Regions from separate parts of the Homo sapiens genome. Here region 2 is linked to region 1. The links come from fine-mapping of genetic effects on gene expression. A gene starts in region 1. The other region holds a variant in brackets. All regions are shown on one strand. Distances are between the middles of the regions. Region 1 holds the start of ABCC8 (ATP binding cassette subfamily C member 8). Region 2 overlaps ABCC8 (ATP binding cassette subfamily C member 8).

Region 1 (10,565 bases):
TCAGAACATCACAGAAAGAAATAATACCCAAAGGAAGAGGGGAAGCCCTACAGGTTTAAGATGGCTTAATTAGTCACTAAATGAGGCTCACTCTAAATCAAATCAGGGCTGCCTTAATCAGCCCCCTCCCACCTGCCCCCTAAATTTCCAGACAGCTCTGAAAACCCAGGCTGGATTAGACTGGAGGTATCACAAGGGTCTGTGACTTCTCCTGTCTGCTCTTTTCCTGCCCCTCACTCAGGCCTGGGGGTAGGAGCTCACAAAGACCAGATGACAATTACTCAGCTTGAGCTGATCTGTGCCCTGGGGAGGAGATGGCCCTTTGCACTGAGCTGAAGCAGTACAGCCACACACAGGAGGGGCTGCTGACAGCCAGCAGGAGGGCATCCCTGGACCGATTCATTCCAGTTTCCCACATTCTGGGAATACACAGTCTACCCAGTGCTCTGCCACTCCGGGCTCTGCACCCTGTCCATGCTCGAATTTCACCCTCCACAGCCCCATGAAGCAGGCAAGCCAGGGACTATGATGCTTGTTTCATAAGGCCAGAGAGCAGTCATGAATGGCCACACTGGGAACAGCCAACACCCTGCCCAGGGATCTTCAAAACTCTTGCCTCTTTACTCCTTGAAATAATTTTGAAACACCTTATACTTTCTCACACATTTTTAAGTTGGCAACTAAAATGTTTTATCGTATGTTTATAAATGCTTATGAGGCCCAGAAAGCCTGAATGACTTGTGCAAAGTCCCATAGCTGGTACACAGCAGCAGTGCTCACTGAAGACCCAGGTCTTCCTTCTCCAAGGGCGGAGGTGTCTTTCTCTGTCACCATCTGGTGAGTATTTCCCATCTGAGGGCTCACTGTGGCATTTGTGCTACTTTGGAAGGGGTGTAGGGGTGGGGGTGGAGGCGGACTTGTCACGTGCTTGTGTAGCAGTATGCCTTCTGGTCTTCTTGCTGGTCTAGGGACTTTAATAAGCAGGCAGAGCTGCTGCCTCCAAGTCAAGCAGGTATTTTAGAGATCACTGCTGAAGCCAGGATGCAGGGACATTGGGGAAGGGAAGGTGGGGAACGGGAGGGAGGATGAGGGAGCCTATCCCCTGCCATCCAACTACAGGAGCCAGGCAGCACTGCAGGAGTGCAGTCTGGGTATAATCTGATTCCAGCTCAGGGGGCGCTGGACCTCAGATACTCAAGCCAAATATCCCTCTCCTCCACCACTCCCTCTCCTGGCAGTCTCTCATCCTTGCTGGTTACTGGATTCTTCCTTAGTGAGATGGCTGCTCCCGCTCCTCTTCTGTCCCTGACTGCTGACACACCATTTCTGTCTGCAGTTATTGCTCACCTAGACTACTGCAGTCAATGCTAAGTCCTGCTTCTATTATACCTCTAGATTCTCCCTGCCTCCAGCCTGCGCTGAACACCTCAGGTTCCCACCTAAAAGTGTTATGCTGATGACATCTCTCTTCTGTTCCAAACTGCTGACCAAATCCGACCCAAACATGCAGGCTGGGATTCACAGTCCTCCTGAGATGCCCCAACCTGGGTTCCCAGCCTCAGCCTCCATCGCTCCCCAGCCTGTGTTTAATGCTCCAGCCCCTGCGCTGCTCCCTAGCCCTACCTGCTTTTCTCTTTGGTGCCTTTTCCCTTCCCTCAGGCACCACCAGTTCTCTCTCTCCTTCCTCCTCTGTGTGTCTGAAGCCTAGTCACCCTTCCAGACTCCGCTCCAAAGCCCTCTCAACCATGGAGCTTGCCCAATTCTGCCTTCCTCTCACCTCCCAGAGTACTTATTTGTAACATGGTTTCATTCATTCTCCTAAGGACCCAATAAATGTTTATGGACTGAATAATGTTTATGTTTATCACATGCCTTGCACTGTGAACACAAAGATGAACAAGACTCAGATTCTAACTCTTAGGCCTTTCTGACTCTGAAGACAGTTTTGCAAATAGACATAAACTTTAACATACAGTGTGATCTGTGCTGTAGCAGAGGTGTGAGGAGTGTGCTGTGAGGCCCAAACGGAAGGTGGGCATGGGGAATGAGGCCAGAGATAGGTGGGGCTGACTGTGAAGACCTTGAATGGTGGGCTGAGGATCTGAGACCACATCTTCAAAACAGCTGAGAACCAAGGAAAGGTCTTATGCAAGAGTGGGTGGCATGGTTAGATTTTTTTTTTTTTCCAAGAAGGTAACTCCGGCAGGTTGTAGAAGAGGCCAGACATTTTTCACTGGAGTTGTGGCATTCTAATAGGCTCTAGCATTATTTCACTGGGACTTGGCATGCAGGTCCGTGTTCCCTCTGCTCTCCTGGACTGATGGCAGGGCCTGGGACTCACTTGCGTCCAGTGCCCAGCTCAGAGAGGTTGGCACATAGAAGACACTGAGCTGCTGGATGTAGTAACAAAAGACATGGGCTTGTGGAATATAGGTGAGCTAGGATCTCCTTGGGCCTTTCAGGAAGTACCCTGGAGCAGATTCACTTTCCTGAGTCCTCAGACAGTCACTCACCCATCAGACAGGATGCCCTCTGCAATCTCACACACCAGGACGAAGAGCAGCATGAAGGTCAGGATCCACCGCAGGTTGTGCCCAGGGAAATGAAGCCATGTGCTGTGGTGGATGTGCACCTTGGAGCTCTGACTTCCCCATCCTGCAGGGAGAGACAGTCAGAGGCAGGATGCCTGCCCACTTGGAGGAGGAAGAGGGTGCATGAACCCCAGAAAGGTGCTTGGGCATTGGGTCCATGGTGAGGGTGACACCTACACATGAGGATCCCCAAGGCTGGTACACACAAACTAAACGTCCAACTCATTCAGCCTGGTCCTATGCTGGTACCTCCCCCACCACACCTTTTTACTGAGACAGGGTCTTGCTCTGTTGCCTCTGCTGGAGTGCAGTGCCACGATCACGGCTCACTACAGCCTTGATCTCCTAGGCTCAAGTGATCCTCCCGCCTCAGCCTCCTGAGTAGCTGGGACTACAGGCGCACATCACCATGCTCAGCTAATTTTTAATTTTTTGTAGAAAGGGCGGGGGGGGTCTCACTATGTTGCCCAGGCTGGTCTCGAACTCCTGGACTCAAGCAGTCTTCCTGTCACAGCCCACCAAAATGCTGAGATTACAGATGTAAGCCACTGTGCCCTGCCAAGGTACCCCATTATACATACTAACTTCTTGTGTGACAAGTCATCAGGTTAATAAACCGTTTGGCTGAGAACAGAAGTGTAAATGCTGTTCTTTTTTGATTTTTGATGCACATATGAGCACATATTTTGTATGTTTTATTTCTATTTCTATCTAACTGTCTTTGTTAATAACTAGCAACTCTGCTTCTGCAGCAACCTCTTGTAAATCTAATTTTGTGACAATCTTTCCTTTCTTCCCCAAAGCTGTATATGAATTTTAAGATTTGCTTGTTTTCTTAAAGTGAATGAACACGTTTTGGGGATGCAGGGGACACCCTATGAGTTGATAGACTTGACTGGTCTGGAAGAGTCAAGGTCTTGGAGAGAGATGGGGGGGACCTCAGTGGAGAGGCACGCACGATTGTCCCGGCCGTGGCGCCCAACTTTGCAAGCAAGGGCGCCGGGGTCGCTGCGTCGGCGAGTCGGAGCTACTTTGCGCAGAGCCTGAGAAGTTGCGCTCTGGAGACACATGCCCGGGTGGGGTGGCGGGGGAAGGGAATCCAAGTCCCTAGCTCTCGCCTCTCCTCGCCCAGGGCGCGGGCCTGGGACTGTCAGAGATCACGGACCACTGCGCGGCTCAGCCCGGTGAAAGCATAGGGGTTAGCTGGGCCTCCATCCCAGACTCCAAAGCACAGGCTTCCCTCTTCCCTAGGCCCAGCTGCGGCTGACAGGGAGGCTGCCTTGCGGGAGGGGTGACCCGGCTCCCTAAGCTGCGCCACGGAGGGTGAGGCCCGACCCCTCTCCAGTTTCCCACTGCGTGCTGAGACCTCCTCTTTCCCTTTTCCCCATCCCAGCTCTTGGCCCTGCAGAAGCAAAACTTGGTGATCCCATGGGTCACAAACGTCCGCTGTGTTTGGCGCGGGATCGGGGGCACCGGGGGAGTGAAGGGATGAGCTGGTGTGCGAGTGCGGGGACCGGCGGGCAGGACACAGGGCAGGGGACCCCGGGAACGAGGCGGACGGCGGTCGCGGGCCGGAAGGGGACGCCGAGCGGTGCGGCGCGCAGCGCCTCCTCCTCCCTCCCTGCTCTCCCGTCCCCTCCTCCGCGGCTCGCTGCGCGCACTCACCAATGAAGAGGATGGGGAAGGTGATGAAGAGTAGGAAGACGTGCGGCACCACGTTGAGCGCGTCCACAAAGCAGCCGTTGTTGAGGACCCCCTGGTCCACCCGGTAGGCGGCCGAGTGGTTCTCGCTGCCGCAGAAGGCCAGGGGCATGGCGGCGCGGGCGCGGGCTGGGCTCGGGCTCAGCTGGCTCCGCTGGCTCCGCGCGCCTGCCGCGCCTCTGTCCCTTGCAGCTCCGCCGCCCGGCCCGGCCGTCAGGCCCCCGCCCCCCGGGCCCCGCCCAGCCCCGCTGGCCTCCCCCTCCCTCACCCCGCCCTGCTCCACCACCTGCGGGGCCGGGGGGCGGCGAGGAACCCGACCGGCCCTGCTACGCTTGCGCCCACCTTCCAGATGTGGAGGCGCGTGCTCCCAGATGTTGCCGGGGTGGCTTCGTGAGTGCCCTGATGCACGCGTGCGCTGGGGGAGAGGGGAAAGGCAGGCTAAGATGGGGAGTGGGGTGTGGGCACACTGGAGTCTGGGTGGGAAAGGAGGGTGGGGCGTGCAGAAGAGGAGAGAAGGGCCCGCAAGGCCTGGAGTGGGCGGGTTCAGGGTCCCGAGTGTGAGTTCACCTGGGCGTGGTGCGGATGGATGTAGAGAGCCGAGGGATGGCGCAAGTCTCCACCCAACATGGATGAGAAAAGTGGGGCAGAACGTTACCTTGTGGTGGTGGTGGTGGTGGGGTGGGGCTTGGACATTTTCAAAAGTGGTCCCAGGTGGGGCACTCCTAGGTACTGCTTTACAGCGTATCTGGCACTTTCACACAAGGGATGTCCCAGAACTCTTGCTAAGTACAGGTTCTAATCGCTTCCAATTTTCTGATGGGGAAACCCAAGCTGCGAGGGAGCTGAAGGGAGGCCAGTAACATGACTTCCCCCAAGGTCTCAGTGCCAGCAAGCAGGGAAGCATAGCTTGAACCCAGCTCCTCAGGTCCCCCGTCCCCACCCCCATCATTTGTACTCATGCCTCTGGTACATGACAACCTTACAGCGACTGGCAGACCAATGGGTAGAATGGGTGACAGCCCCAGGCTGATAAAGAGGAGTTTAAGAAACGCATCTGGCCAGATGGATGTGAGGCAGTGGAGAGGGACTGAAATTCTTAACCTCACCTGGGACAGGCTTAACAGTTGGAGGACACCGTGCAATTGTAAAGACAACATTATGTCTTCCTATACGTTTTGGAGAGATTCTCACAAGACTGTGGCCCAAAGAAGTTTATATTGTATGTAGAAAGAACAGAAGATGGGATTTGGGGGTTAGATTTAAGGAGAACTTTCCTAGTTAGGGTATGAAGCATAAATGCACATGTTCTTAGGAACAGTCAGGGGAACACAAAAGAAAGACCCCTTCAGCCCCTTTGCCTACAAGCTTCACTGAGCCTGCCCTGAGGCTGCTGAGCCTGGTGAGCCTCTCCAGCACGCTGTCAGCAAGGCCGAGGCTCTGCCCAGGCCCTGAGGCAGAGGGCAGATGGGGTTGGGTGAAAAGCCTTGGGAAAGCAGGAGTTCAGGGTCTGAATGCCTCAGTCTCTGACTTTGGAGAATTTCTCAGAAGCCAAAAGATGTTTCTTGCAGCATCAGCCAAAATAGTGAAAACTTGGTGGCAAGAAATATCCAGCACCAGGGACAGGGGTTAATCAACCTTGAAAAATGCAACTGCTGGGACGGTGCTAGCTGAGTCTGTGTAGTCAATAGAAAAACTTTACAAGATAGTGTCAGGTGAAAAACGGCAAACAAAATTGTGCTTCCCATGATTATAGCCGTACGAAATATGTATACTTGCATGAAGCCTGCAGGGAAAGGTCAGACTTGGAAATTTGGTAAGGCGGTGCTCAGTATGTACTGGCTGCCGTCGCTGTGCTTATCCTCATTCCCTTTCTTTAAAAATGAGACAACTGAGGTTCAGAGAGATGAGATGACAGGTCCATGGTCACCCAGTAAGATTTTTTCTTTTAGTTTGTTTTTCTTGCTTTCAAGGTTTTTTTTTTTCATATTTTCTGCAATGTTGTTATTTTCTTTTGTAGTTACAATTTCAGTTTTTTCACACTTTCAGCAATGCTATCTTTCTTTTTAGCAGTAATAATATATTTACTTTTAAAGAACAGGGCTCCTAGTCCTGGCTCTACTACTACTAGTTGTGTGATTTGGGGGCAGGTTACCATTCTGCACTTCAGTTTCCTTATTTCTAAATGGAAAAGATAATAATATGGAACCCAGAAGATTAAGATGAGATCATGGGTATGAATGTGCTTTGCAAGTTGGGGAGATAGTCCAAGCTACTTCATCCCATGGGTGACTACACACGGCAGCCCCTTGATCAATCAGGGTTATTTAATGGTCTCTCCCTCACCCCACATTGCCTGGTGCAACCCTCACACTTGCCTATTCTGGGTCATTTGAAACAAACAAAAAGTCTGGTGTTAAGGGAGCATCAACTGGGACTAAGAGAGTGTTAAGTCTGGAGTCTTGGGGACTCGTGTTTGCCATCTCTAGCACAAACTTACTGTGTGACTGTGGACAAATTCCACCTTTCCCTGCACCTAGGTCTACACTGAGGACATGCACCACACTGCCCACCATGTGGGTGGGAGAATTACTTTGAAAAAGTGTGGAGTCAGGTGCGCACGGAGGCATGAAAGGACTTCCTTTGTAGTATATGGGTTGTATTCCTGGAATCAACCCAAATGCTCATCAGTATGGGGCTGGTTCAAACAGACAAAACCCAAACAGACAAAAAACAGATATTGTCTGTACTGTGGGATACTGTGGAGCAAGCGCAGAGAATAGAGTTATGCTTACTGGCAGGGGAAGATGTCCAAGACACAGACGCAGAGCGGTGTGTGGCATACAAAATCATTCATGTCTGTAACAGGGCTACGTCTGCCTCTGTCGGGGAGATGCTGGGTCTCTGGTGCTTCCCCACCTCTAGCCATGCCTTTTGTTTCTCTTGCTAGGGGCTGGAAGAAGGTCAGACTCTGAGAGCTTGCTTTGAGCAAGGGTACCCCGCTCTGAGAATTCCCAGCCATTCTCCTGGCAAAATGAAAACTAGGGCTGGATTTCCGGGATTGGATTCTCACACTCACCGGCTACTGGGTGGGTGTGGCCTCAGGCAGGGTGCAGTAAAGGGGCTGGTGCAGAGCTTCAGAAAAGTCCTTTCCAGATCCCTTGAGCCAGGGAGGTTAAGGCTGCCGTGAGCCATGATCGGGCCACTGCACTCCAGCCTGGGCGACAGAGAGAGACCCTGTCTCAAAACAAAACAAAACAAAACAAACAAACAAAAAGTCCCTTCCAGCTCTGATGTTGTTCTGGCCTTAGTGCCTTTGTCTCTATCTGGCTGACTAGGAGTGCCAGTGTTCCAGTGACCATGGCAGAGGGGGTCATTACAATGACAATGGTGACGTAATGGAGTGGGGTTATAGTTGAAGAAATAAACCCTTTCAATAACCACAATCAACAGCGGCCTGGTTAAAAACAGACAAAAGCAAAACTCATGGTGTGACCTATACTATGGAATAGTGGAGAACAAGTACAGAGCCTAAGTTCGGGTGACCCTTACTGACTGGGAAAGGTGTGTCCTTTCCTGTCTCCTTCAGGTGCTCAAAGCCTGTATCCACAGGGGAACTTGGAAGACTGTAGAACCAGTGAAAGAGAGGACTGATGTAGAGACAAAATGTCTTAACTGGAACCTGGGAGGGAGAAGTGATCTCCTGTCTCATCTCCATCCTGCCCCATGTCAGGAGGAGGGAAGTAGAGAGAGAAGTTCTTTTGAGAGGGAGCCTGTGCCCAGCCTCCCTGCCTGTCTGTTGTAGAGGTGGCTGGGGGACAGCCACCCAGAAAGGGCAGGTTGTGTGTAGACTGTGTTAGAAAATCCATACAAGGGCTTTTTAGGTTTTTAAGATTATTTTTTTTTTCCTGTAGAGATGGAGGTATTACTGTTTTGCCCAGGCTGGTCACAAACTCCTGGCGTCAAGGGATCCCCCCCGCCCCCTAACCTTGGCCTCTGAAAGTGTTGGGATTACAGGTGTGAGCCACTGTGCCTGGCTCACATACAAGGGCTGTTTTGAAGAAAGGTGTTCTTGTCCCAGGGCAGGGCCTCTAGACAACAGAGGCAGGGGACCCTCAGCCATACTTGAATGGCGAGGGTGAGGCAGGAACAAGACGAACTCTCCCCGGTCTCTTGGCATCACGTAACTGGAGAGGTGGGGAAGGAAATCCAAGAAGGCCCAAGGCTAATGTTTTCTGCCAGTCTAGTGGGATGGGGACTTGATACAGAAATTAAATAACATTCTTGCTCTTGCCCACTTAAGTTTTGGTCCAAGATCCCCCTCACGACAGTAACACAATGCAGAAGGGTAACTCCTACGGATGGCCTGGTTGCTCTATACCCTTGAGGCCACTTAAGGTCAAACTCAGCATCTCCTTGCATCCTCTAAAACAGCCAACACCCAGTCCATTGGTTTAAAAAAATGAAAGCTTTACTGAGCTCTTTACAGAGAGCTAGAAAAGTTGTAATTCACACAACTCACAGCAGAAACTTAGTAAACCCCCGTATTTCTCCTGTACCCCCAGTGGTCTTCTCCTTTGTGTGTATCTCATATCTCCTCTTCCTTTCTTCCACACGGTGTCTTTTTTAAAAAACATGCCCATTGTGACCCAGAGCAAGTCAATATTTGCCTTCAGCTTGCTTACCCACTTAGGACTTCTCTAGCAAGTCTTGCTCCCTTCCCAAGCTGCTGGTCATCCCCAAACCTGCTCTCTTCCTGGGAAGATTACTGAGGATAAGATTTTCTCCTTTTTGTTTCACCAATAGTTGTTGAGTGCTTAGTATATGCCAACCACTTTACGTGTTTTAAATCTCACAGTAACCCTGCCTAGTAGTTACAACTATCGGAGAACTGAGACTCAGAGAGGTTAAGCCCCATTCCCTAGTGACACAGCTGGAGGAGTTGGTGAAGAAAAGACCCAAACTCAGTGAGGCCTGGCTTCAAAGCCTGTGCTGTTAACCACTTCCCAAAGGGATCCTGGGGGTATCGAGGATTTTTCTGCTTCTGAGACTTTGGCTCCTGAGGAAGGAGCGCAAGGCCCAAAGAACAGACCTTTGGGGAAACCTGTGTATCTGTGCCTTTTGCCTTTTCTCTGTGTTAGAACCCGAAAGAAAGGCCTAGTTCTGTCACTGTTATCAGTCGGGGGTCAGATGGGAAGATTCGAGGGTGATGGGGCCCTGCTCCCTGGGGCCTTATACCCGTGGGTGAAACAGGTACACAAATGACCCTGCAGTGATTTGCTTTGGAGACAGCTGCCACTGCTGATGGAAGGAAATGTGTGTGAACAGCACGGCGACAGCTCTGGGTCTGGCCCAATGCTGTGGAATCCCATAAGGTGTGCTGGCTGAACCCGCTCCCTGCTCAGGGCCACAGTGTTGCAGACTGTCTCTCAGAGTTCAGCCAAAGAGGACTCTGCTCTCTGGCCCAGCCAGGACCTTGACAGATGCCTCTGGCTGGCACAGCATGGCCTCAGCTGTCTGGGCCTGGAGGGTCCTGCTAGAGCTGGGGCCGAGGCCAAGTGATGCGAGGGCACTGCTCAATAACTTCCCATTTCCTGTATGTTCCTCTCTTCTCCCCAGAGGGACTTCAGCTCCTATCCCCTGAGCAGAGCTTGCCTAAAACCAAACTCTGTGGTGGGGAAGTTTAGGTCCTGGCATTACCCCTGACCAGCTGTGTGACCTTGGGCCAGTCAACCTCCCTAAGCCTCAGCTGTCAAATAGGAAGAATAACCTCTCTTTTATGGGTTGTGTGTGTGAGAAAGCCTGGCACAAAGGAGACACTCGAGTCAAGCTTTTCCACTTTCAGGTCAGCCGAGGGCTTCTTGTCTGAAATCCCAAGATGGTCACTGATATTTATTTTTATTTTTGTTTTTTTAATAATTGATTGAGTTCCTACCTAGTGCCAAGTCTTTTATTACATTTTCTGGCTTAGTCACCATCTCTCTTTAAAGCAGGTAGTATGATTGCTATTACCAAGTTGAGAATAAGGCAGAGAGAAAACCTTGGTTGACCAAGGTCATCCAGCAAAGAAGGTGTCAGAGTCCGGGTTCCTACTGGGGCAGCCTTCTGAGATACAGGGATGGGCTTAGGCAGGGGTGGGATAGATGAAGAAGGCGAAAACGGGAGTGGAAGCTATCCCTTTGGAAGGGGGTGTGATGTGGTGGGATGGGGGACTTGTCTGGATGCAGTGTCTGCAGAGCAAGCCCCCTGTTCTTATTTATTTATTTAATTTTTGTG
Region 2 (10,565 bases), 55 kb before region 1:
CAGACCAACACCAGTTAGTTCCCACCCCATTGCCTTTCCATCACGCTGAGTCTTAGGGGAGAAGCAATCCCCACCTCCAACCCTCCCACCCATTCCCAGGGTTTCCAAATGGCCTCTGTGGGGTCAGAAAGCACTCTTCTCAATCTCTGTCCCTCCCACAGCACCTGGATGGGTACCCTCCAAATAGCATGTGCTAAATCAGCGTTCCTGGCATTGACTCGGAGCAGCGGTGAGGCTGGCTGGGCATCAGGAGCATTTTATAGTTGGAAAACTAAATCCCAGAGAGGGAAAGTGAGAGGACACAATCATTTCTTATAGTGTTTTCCAAACTGTGGATAGGGACCCAATCATTGGGTCTGGAATAAGTAGGCGGCAAGTGCATTTGAGGAAAAAGAAAAAAAAAGAATAGATGGAATCAGTGTGTACTGCACGTGGTACTGTATTTTTCGTGATTTTTTCTCTTGTTTATAAATGCATAAATATAGTGGACTGTAATGTCAAATGCTTTTCATACTGTGGATTTTGATAACTTAAAAAACACTGAGTGAGGTGACTTGAATTGTGATGCCAATTTTGCCAGTGCTCTATCCCCTCCCCCAGGATACCTCTCAACCTTCCAGAAGCAGCCCCTTGCCAATGAAATATATACTTCTGACATGAACATTTGGGGGAAAAAATCTGCTTTATTTTCATACAGATCTTACTTTAATAATACTAACAACAGCTAAAATTTATTGAACTTTTATAAGCACCATAGTAGTATTTTCTCTCTCTCTCTCTCTCTCAGACAGGGTTTCACTCCTGTTGCCCAGGCTGGAGTACAATGGCGTGATCTTGGCTCACTGCAACCTCCACCTCCTGGGCTCAAGCGATCCTCCTGCCTTAGCCTCCTGAGTAGATGGGATTACAGGCACGTACCACCATGCCTGACTAATTTTTGTATATTTTTTGTAGAGACAGGAGTCTCATTCCCTATGTTGCCCAGGCTGGTCTCCAACTCCTGGGCTCAAGCGATCCTCCAGCTTTGGCCTCCTAAAGTGCTGGGATTACTGGCAGTGAGCCACCGTGCTCAGCCAGTATTGTCTCTTTATAAAGCTCAAAATAACCATATGAAGGAGGTTTATTCTGATCGCCCTCACTTTACAGATAAAGAAAGTGAGGCTCAGAGAAAGGCTAAGTAACTTGCCCAAAGTCACACAGCTAGTAAGTAGCGGAGAAAATAGCTCCGACTCCAACGTTCATACTCTTAAATGCCATGGTACATTACTCCCCTGTGATTTCCCATGCCATAACTCTGATAAATGCCCCTTGTCAGGAGAACCAGGATGGACGAAATCAAGGATGGAAATGAGCCTGATGAAATCCCCCTCCTGCTGAGGGTCAGGACTGAATGAAGATTCTGATGGGTATGTAGTCCCCAGTCCCCTCTTTTCCTGTTCTCTAATCTTCGTGGTCTCATTTCATTCTCTTAACCAAACTTCATATTCCCTAACCATCAGATGGCTGTAATTTACAATTTATAGACAAGCTGGTAACATGAGACATAGAAACCTAAAGCTTACAAATTCCAGCTCTGTGGCCACAGCCCAGATAAGCTTATCTCTGGAGTCTTCCTGATGTGACTACTTCCAGAGTAGCAGAGGTGGTTATTGATGCATCTGTGGCATTCCTGAGGACCCCAGCACACAGTAAGCTCTCCAGGCCCTAACTCAGTTTGCAACATGGTCTGCACTGCTCAATTAGCCCTCATAATGGACTGCCTTCCTCTCTGATCAGCTCCCGTGTAATTTGTTCATCCCCAGTGGAATTTTAAGGCAGGAAGAACATCTTTTTCAGCCCCCATGGTGCTTAGCACATGACAGAGCTATATAATGAATGGAGGCTGGTAACAGATATATTAATCATTTGGAAAGAAGAAAGGGCGGGGCTGGCTCTCATTGCTGACCTTCACTGTGCACTGTGAGAAGTTGTTTGCAAACAACTCATCATCTCATCCTTACAACCCTATAAACCCTATCCCCATTTTACACATGAGGATACTGAGACTCAGAGTTTGCAAATGTGACAGAGCTGGGAAGAGGGGAAGCTGGGGTGTGAATCCAAGTTCTTCTCTTTCCAGTGTAGCCCCAAGCCTCCTCCAGTGAGCCTCCCCAAACTTTGTATCTGTTTTAAGCTGAAAAGTAAAGAATGGTATGTCTGGCAGGCACCATCTCTCACTCATTGCTGTGGTCTTTACAAGAGTGCTGAGGGGATTCGATTCCTCCTCTGCCTGCACTCTAGGGAGGAAGCACACAGCTGAAAGCATGAGTCTTCCAGTTCCCCAACCGCATGTCCTTCCCTCCAGCCCACTAGGAGCTGGCATATGTGTGGCAACCTGAATCAGGGTGCAGAGGCTGCCTTCCAGGGGCTCACACTCTGGTAGGGCAAATCAGAAAGGTACCGAAGTCAGGAAGTTATAAGGGTCAAAAGAAAAGTAGGACAAAGTATCGGAGAACTTTTGGGGAAAAGTAAACACAAATGCATATGCAAATGCATAAAGAAAAACTGGAAGCTTCTGGGTGATGGGATATTAGGTGGTTTTTATCTTCTGTATGCTTGTGTATCTTTTCTAATGTAATGTGCATTCTTTTAGAATCAGAGAAAAAACATAATTTTTACAAGAAATTTGGAGGAGGAAGAAATCTGAGAAAATGAGTAGAGCCTCATAGAAGAAGTCATAGCTGAACTGAACCTTAAAGAGTGGGAAGGATTGAGACGGTGGAGGTGAAGGGAGGGAACTGCAGGTTAAAGGAAGAGGCAGCATATGATAACAGGTGCGAGAAGTAGGAAAAATATGGGCTCTGACATTTGAATCCCAGAGGCTTTTCCACTCATTGGCTGTGAAATCTGAGGCAAGCTCCTTTACTTGGAGGAGCCTCTGTTTCCTGATCTATAAAATGGGGGTGAAGGCACAAACCTCACAGTGACACTGGAGAATGTATTACAGCTCACAGCTGGTTAGGGGGCAGGTTGTAGGCTTGGAGAACTAGGAGGAATTGTCTTTTCAGCTCAGTGCTTGGCCCCAAAAGTACAGGCAGAGGGAGAATCAGATACCCCCAACACTCATTTAAGACCCCGGCAATAAATAAAAAGGGAAGAAGTGGAAACTGAGGTTCAAAGAGTGAGCTAGGATATACAGGGCTCCACAGCCCATTCATCCTGCCCAGACAGGCTTGTCGCTGTCCTGAAAGGTTACCTTTCACCCACAGCATCCTTTCCAATTGATGTCATTGGGTCCCATTGCCAAATCTCTGAGACAGGAAAGGTAGGGTTTTACTCATTGTCCAGACAGTGAGTCTGTCTCAGAGAGGTGAAGTAACCTGCTCAAGGTCACAGAGCTAGCAAGTGGCAGCATCAGGACTACAGCCAGGGGCCATCTGGTTCCCATGGCTGGACAGTCACTTCCTCAGAGCATCCCTTCTCCTGTCTGTCAGCTGTCTCACCACACCTGCCTCCTCCAGGAAACCCAGGGGCACTTGAGCCCCTGACTTCAGCTCCCCAAAGGCTCCAGGAATTGTACAGGCAGATGCGACCAGGGCCGTCCTGAGAGAAGCCTTTTTCTCTCTTCCTGGGGAATCAGGGCTCTTGGCAGGCAGCATCCACACCAACCACCACAGGCAACAGCATTGCAGCAGGGAGCTCCAGTGAGACTGCATGTGCAGCTCCTCACAGGGAAGTGGGAGCCTCTTCCCCACGCTGATCCTTTCCTCAGGGCCCTGGTTCCTGCTGACCCCCCGGGGGCATTTAAAGTCACTCTACTGTGGATATTAATGGCTCTATTCTTTATTTCCAGGGAAAGAATTTCACCCGAGTGTATCTGCTAATCTTGACTTTTTACCAAAACATTTTCCTCTTAAGGATTAAAGAGAGAGTTTGCAAATCCCAAGGTTGTCACAGTTCCTTGAAGCAGAGAGCCAGGGAGGGGCAAGTGATTCTTCCTAAAGTGAATGCTTGGGAACCACACAGTTCTCTCTGAGACCAGGAGCCAGGCTGCTGACGTGAGGGACAAGCTCGGGGCTGCATCTGCAGGACTTCAGCAGATGGACCCTTTGTGCCCACCCTGCAGCTCTGTCTGCACACCTCTGTCCATCCTGGGTGGGTGAGCTCCCCAAGGGCAGGTGCTAGGCCTTTTCCTTTGTAGCCTACACAGAACAGTGCACAAAATACACATCTGCATGGGGCACCTGGGGTACAACATGGAATAATCCCTCAAGGAGCTCAGAGTCATGGAGGAGACAGACGCATTAGCAAATAATTATAATACCATGTGAGGTATGCACTAACGGTATTTGCTCATTCCAAATATTGATGGAGAAGAGGGGTAGTGAAATACTGGGTTAGGAAACAGCTCGGACAAAGGCATGTGGAAAGGAGAGAGATGTCAAGATGCATTATAATGGCAGCCTCTTGAAGGTCTTAAGTTGTTCCTGGTTCATTCATTTAGCAAGTGAATTCGTTTAGCAAAAAGCACTACGGATACAGTGAGACAAACAAAATATGGTCCCTGTCCCCAGGGAGCTCACAAGAATCTTTCCCAGGAGACAGACTGGAGGACATTTAAAGAGGAACAGGTGAATTTTGTTCCTGGCAAAGAAGTACACTATTGAATAATAATATTTATAGGATATTTACTACATGCTAGGTTAATCCTCACATCAATCTCATGGGTAATAAGGGAAACTGGTAGAGAAAGCTTATGAAATTTTCCAAAGCACAGAGACCAAATGTGAACCCAGGCAGCTTGGCTGCAGAGCCTGTGTGTGCAGCCATACTGCTCACGTGGTCACTGGAGGAATAAACGAATAGTTGCACCAACAAAGCACCCATCTCCCCAGAGCATTCTCCATTCTACACCTCCTAATCCCCCAACTTCCTGCCTTGTGCCTCCTGGAACTCCTTCTGGCTGCCTGGTCACCAGGTCTTGGCCTGGGTATGGCTGAAAAGCATCTGAGCAGCAGCCTGGCATCACCCTCTCCTCTGGCTGCAGGCGTGCAGACTTGGGAATGCTTGCCAGGTCAGAGGCTGTTTTGCTTTTAGCTCACTTTGCAAGCACGTCTTCTCCCTGCAGACCTGGGGCTCAATGTCTGAGGTGTGGAGTTCCTGCCAGTAATGGAGGGGGACTCTCAACACACAGCCCCCACACTTAACTCAATGCCCAGGATAGGTGGGCCAGCCAGAGCAGTGCACATGTCTAGATTTTGAGAGACAAACAGCAGATGAAGCTAATTGAGTCGTATCTGCCTAGACTCCTTCTCCTAGCCACTATAAGGAGCTGCAGACTGACCTTCCTTCCTGGAGTCTGTCTGTCTTTTCTTTTTCTCTCTCCCCAGTCCATCATCCTTTGTCATAAGCATGATCCTTCTGCAGCATTTGGGCTAAAACTTACTTCCTAGAGGTAAGCACTGTATCCATAGTGCTTTTGCTAAATGAATTCATTTGCGAAATGAGTGAACCAAAAACAACTTAAGATCTTCAAGAGGCTGCCATTAGAATGCATCTTGACATCTCTCATTTCCCCATGCATTTGCCCAAGCTGTTTCCTAACCCAGTACCTACCTCTCTTCTTGATCAATACTTGGAATGAGTGAATATTAATGCACACCTCACACTGTGTTATGATTATTTGCTAATACCTCCCTTCCTACAGTCTGTCTGTCTTTTTCTCTGTTTCCCCAATCCATCATCCTTTATCACAAGCATGGTTCTTTTGCAACCTTTGGGTTAAATCTTACTTCTCAGACCTACTACATGGGATCTAAGCCAAGTTCACTTCTTCAGTCCCATCTTTCATAATGCACCCCATGCATCCAGTGTTCCAGGTGCACAGAACTATGTTCTTTAATATCAGCAAGGCTTTGCCCACACCATCACCCCTGCCTGGACCACCTCCCTTTCCCATCCCTGCCTTTTCTACTTGATGAAACCACACTCATCCTTCAAGGCTCAAATACCACATCCGCAGTGAGCCTCCTCTCCTTGACTGCAGAGTCAATTGTGGTTCCTCTGAGCTCTTCTAAGGCCCAGGTCTTCTCTCCCCTCTCTTAAAAGCGGGGCCGGCCAGGGGTGGTGGCTCATGCCTGTAATCCCAGCACTTTGGGAGGCTGAGGCGGGCGGATCATGAGGTCAGGAGTTCGAGATTACCCTGGCCAACATAGTGAAACCCCGTCTCTACTAAAAATACAAAAAATTAGCCGGCATGGTGGTGTACACCTGTAGTCCCAGCTACTTGGGAGGCTGAAGCAGGAGAATCGCTTGAACCTAGGAGGCAGAGCTTGTGAGGAGCTGAGATCGCACCACTGCACTCCAGCCTGGGCAACAGGGCGAGACTCCGTCTCAAAAAAAAAAAAAAAAAAAAAAAGCAGGGGCCACGTCTTAGTCACCTTTGCACTCCTGTTGCTGTCACAGGGTCTAGTATACACTAGGCGCTCAACTGGGTGAGTGAATACGTCACTGTGGACGCTGGAGAATGAGTTGACTTGGGAACAAATTCTCATGATTTCCCAGGGTTGGCTGCAAGCTAACAAATGCACTTCACTATGCTTGAAAGGGAAGCTGGACCAGGACCGGGCGAGAGAGCAAAGAGGATCCTGGAGAAATGAGACCCCTTCACTACCGCCCCTCTGCGAGCCTCGAACAGAGCTGGGAGCTGGGGCCTAGGCTACCTGTAAAGGAGAGTAAGTGTTGATAAGGACAGAGCTGTGAGGACCCACGTGGCAGTTCTGGGAGGAGGCAGGTGTGTGTGAGTCATGGCCACAGCGGCTGCTGGCCTTTGGACTGTCAGGCTAGCTATGCCTTCTTCATGAGGCTCTTGTGCCCCTTCTCTTTGAGCACATGGTGGCAAACCAATGCACTTGAGCACCTAGGTGCAAATCCCACTTCTGCCATTTAACAGCTGGGTGGCCTTGGACAACTTGCTTCACCTCAGTTTCCTAATCTGATAAATGAGGATATAATAATATCTACTGCACAGAGTTCGGTGCAGACTGACTGAGATGATGAGGTGCCTGCACAGTGCCTGGCCTATAATAAGTGCTTAGGCAGGAACAGAAAACCAACCACCACATGTGCTCACTATAAGTGGGAGTTGAACAATGAGAACACGTGGACACAGGGAGGGGAACATCACATACCGAGCCTGTCGGGGGGTGGGAGGCAAGAGGAGGGAGAGCATTAGGA[C/A]AAATACCTAATACATGTGGGGCTTAAAAAGATGACAGGTTGATAGGTGCAGCAAAGCACCATGGCACATGTATAGCTATGTAACAAACCTGCACACTCTGCACATGTATCTCAGAACCTAAAATAAAATAAAAAATAATAAAAAAAAGAAGTGCTTAGGGTCCTCTGCCTTGGAGAGGCTCCTTGTGTTCCCTGGGCTGGGGCAGAGGTTTCCTAAGAGAGAGGGGCAGCAGTCAGACCCGGAGGGTTGGCACAGCTTGGAGAAGAGGTGGGGACTGAGGCAGGGCAGAGCAGACCCCTGCCAATCATGCCTGCTTCATCTACATAGGACAAGGAGAGCTCCTGAGGCAGGCACGATGCCACATGAGGGCATGAGGGTGGGGGAGGAGAAGAAAGCAGGGCAAAGGGACCAGGTTCAGAGTGGGTTTTGACATCCATGCTGAGCAGGTCAAGGCAGGGGCAGCTCCAGTGTCTGAGCCCTGCAATCCTTCTGGAAAAGCCCTGCCTTGGAGGAGAGCCCAGATCCAGCCTGACCACTACATGGGGCTTGGACAATAACCCTTAGGACTAGGCCCTGGGGGCCCCAGCAGTGACCAGGTTTGAGGGAAAGAACATGGGCAGAGTCTCTGCTCCACACACTGACTAGTAAGTCACCCAACTTCTCTGAGCCTGAGTTTCTGCTTCTGTGAAATGGGGTAACAACACTCCCCTCCTAAACTTAGTAGGAGGCTTGATGAGATCATGTTGACAATGCACTTAGCAAAGGGCATGGCCCATAGGAGGTACCCAATAAATATTGGTTACTTTCTTCAGCTCACAGTGCACTGGGGACTCTTGTCTTCTTGCTGCAGGCATGCAGTTGGACAGCAGAAAAGGGCTCCTCCCTCCAAAGGCTGGAGAGGCAGTCGGAATAAGGCAATATGATCTCAAACCGAATACCTGGGCCTTCCCAGTCAGGCTATGTTGAAAAATCTCCCAAATAAAATGGCGAATGGAGGCAAAGACCCCTCTGCCCCCAAAGACATCACAGTCCCTGATGGGAGGTGATGGGAAACCCAAGGGGCTCATCTGCTAGCCCACGACCCCACTGAGGAGGGAAATTTGCCATCTTTTGGATACACCATTCAGGGACATCTTGGAAATGCAGGAAACGGGGGTGCATGTTGATATTCAGACATTGGGCCCAAAGTCTTTCTCCCTGCTCAGTTCTGTACTCATGCTTATGAAAAACCTGACACCTTCAATAATTTTCCCCTAGAAATGATTGGTAGGGAAAGCTTGCCCTTCTGCTGATTGGCTGCAACTTTTATTCCTAAATGAATACTCCAAAGCCCAGAGATCCCTTTTTCCCTTGGCTACCAGAGGGCACAGAGCCAGGTTTTATGTTGATGGCTGTAGTTGTCCTCTGCCCAGGTTGCTGAACATCTTTTTACCCTCTTCATTTCTCAGTTCCTATTTTCTTACCTTTTTAAAGGGTTTTATTTTACATGCATCTTTTTTTATTATACTTCAAGTTCTGGGATATACGTGCAGAACGTGCAGGTTTGTTACATAGGTATACACATGCCATGGTGGTTTGCTGCACCCATCAACCCTTCATCTACATTAAGTATTTCTCCTAATGCTATCCCTCCCCTTGCCCCCCACCCCCAGACAGGCCCCAGTGTGTGATGTTCCCCTCCCTGTGTCCATGTGTTCTCATTGTTCAACTCCCACTTATGAGTGAGAACATGTGGTATTTGCTTTTCTGTTCCTGTGTGAGTTTGCTGAGAATGATAGTTTCCAGCTTCATCCATGTCCCTGCAAAGGACACGAACTCAACCTTTTTTATGTCTGCATAGTATTCCATGGTGTATATGTGCCACATTTTCTTTATCCAGTCTATCATTGATGGGCATTTGGGTTGTTTCCAAGTCTTTGCTATTGTGAATAGTGCTGCAATAAACATACGTCTGCATGTGTCTTTATAGTAGAATGATTTATAATCCTTTGGGTATATACCCAGTAATGGAATTGCTGGGTCAAATGGTATTTCTGGTTCTAGATCCTTGAGGAATCACCGCACTGTCTTCCACAATGGTTGAACTAATTTACACTCCCACCAACAGTGTAAAAGCGTTCCTATTTCTCCACATCCTCTCCAGCATTTGTTGTTTCCTGACTTTTTAACGATCACCATTCTAACGGGTGTGAGATGGTATCTCATTGTGGTTTTGATTTTTACATGAATCTTTCATCAACTAGTTTCAAGTGCTTCTTGGAAGTAGGTGGGTATAAATAACAGATTCGTGATTGACTGAGCCTGGGGTTCTGGCTCTTTAATTAAGACAGTGATCTTTGCCCAGAAACCAACATTTATTGGTTACATCTGGATCTTCAGAACACCCACTTATGGTGTGTAGGTCAGTGCAGCTCAGGACCAAGCTGGAAACCAATGTTGGTGTTGCAATTTCCCACACTGGGAAATTACTGCCGTGCATCTGAGTAACCATGGGATTCAGAGTCTGACAGAACTGAGTTTCAATTCCAGCTCTGCCACTTATTAGCTGTGTGAATTAGGACAAATAGTTTAACCTTCCTCTATAAATGAGAATTGAGAACAGTATGGACCTTGTTAGTTATCATAAAAATTAAATGAAATAATGCATGCAAAGGACTTAGCAAAGAACCTGCGCATAGTAAGAGGTGAATACGTACTAGTGATGATGATGAGAATATCCATTAGCAGCATTTATTGAGTCCTCACTGAACACAGAGTGGGCCCTCCAATAAATGTGTGTGCATCCTCAACTGAGGAGGATGGTTAAAAGGAGATTTCCCCTCCACTGGGCCCTGAGGATACATGTATTACCTGCTCCAGAAGACAGCCCCTGAGACCTTCTGCATCTCCCCCAGTGCGGCTAGAAGGAGCGAGGACTTGCCGCAGCCCACCTGCCCCACGATCATAGTCAGCTGGCCTGCAGGGAGGGAGGGTGGCAGATGTGAGTGGGGCCGGGGGAGTCTGAACAACCATTACCCAGAAAGACAGACAGACAGATGCACCCAACCCTGGGGCCCCTGTTTTCTTTCTTCCTACCTAGAATCCCCAGCAAGTCCTCTCCCTCTTTAATCCTTTCCTTCTGGAAATCAACATCCTCCTCTGGCTCCCCAGGTCCTTCCCCCTCTCTGATTTCCTGCCCCGCCACCCTTCCTAAGCACTCGCTTCTCCTTTCCCATGCTCCTAGTATGAGCCCAGGCTCCTTGTGGTCCCAAGAAACACCATCCTGGGTCCCACCTCCAACCCACCTCCATACTTTGCTCATGGCTGCCTCTGCCAGAAAATCCTCCTGCCTCATGGCCTCAGGGCCTTT

The links. PIP is the estimated chance that this variant, and not a neighbour inherited with it, causes the effect.
Region 2: its variant is fine-mapped to the expression of ABCC8 in nucleus accumbens (GTEx, PIP above 0.99). The same link has a PIP of 0.9 or more in caudate and putamen.

What each region holds. Positions count from the first base shown.
Region 1 is chr11:17,472,373-17,482,937 of GRCh38, forward strand. ABCC8 (ATP binding cassette subfamily C member 8) reads right to left here and starts at 4,473. Exons shown (of 39, transcript NM_000352.6): 1 at 4,257-4,473; 2 at 2,514-2,655. The coding sequence starts at 4,404. It overlaps LOC124902641 (a long non-coding RNA gene), which reads left to right and starts at 4,279. Exons shown (of 2, transcript XR_007062609.1): 1 at 4,279-4,359. RefSeq lists an enhancer at 3,129-3,685.
Region 2 is chr11:17,416,983-17,427,547 of GRCh38, forward strand. It overlaps ABCC8 (ATP binding cassette subfamily C member 8), which reads right to left. Exons shown (of 39, transcript NM_000352.6): 16 at 10,067-10,172. Among named protein-coding and RNA genes, the nearest start is that of KCNJ11, 34 kb to the left of the region's middle. The variant C/A (reference allele first, on the strand shown) is at 7,216.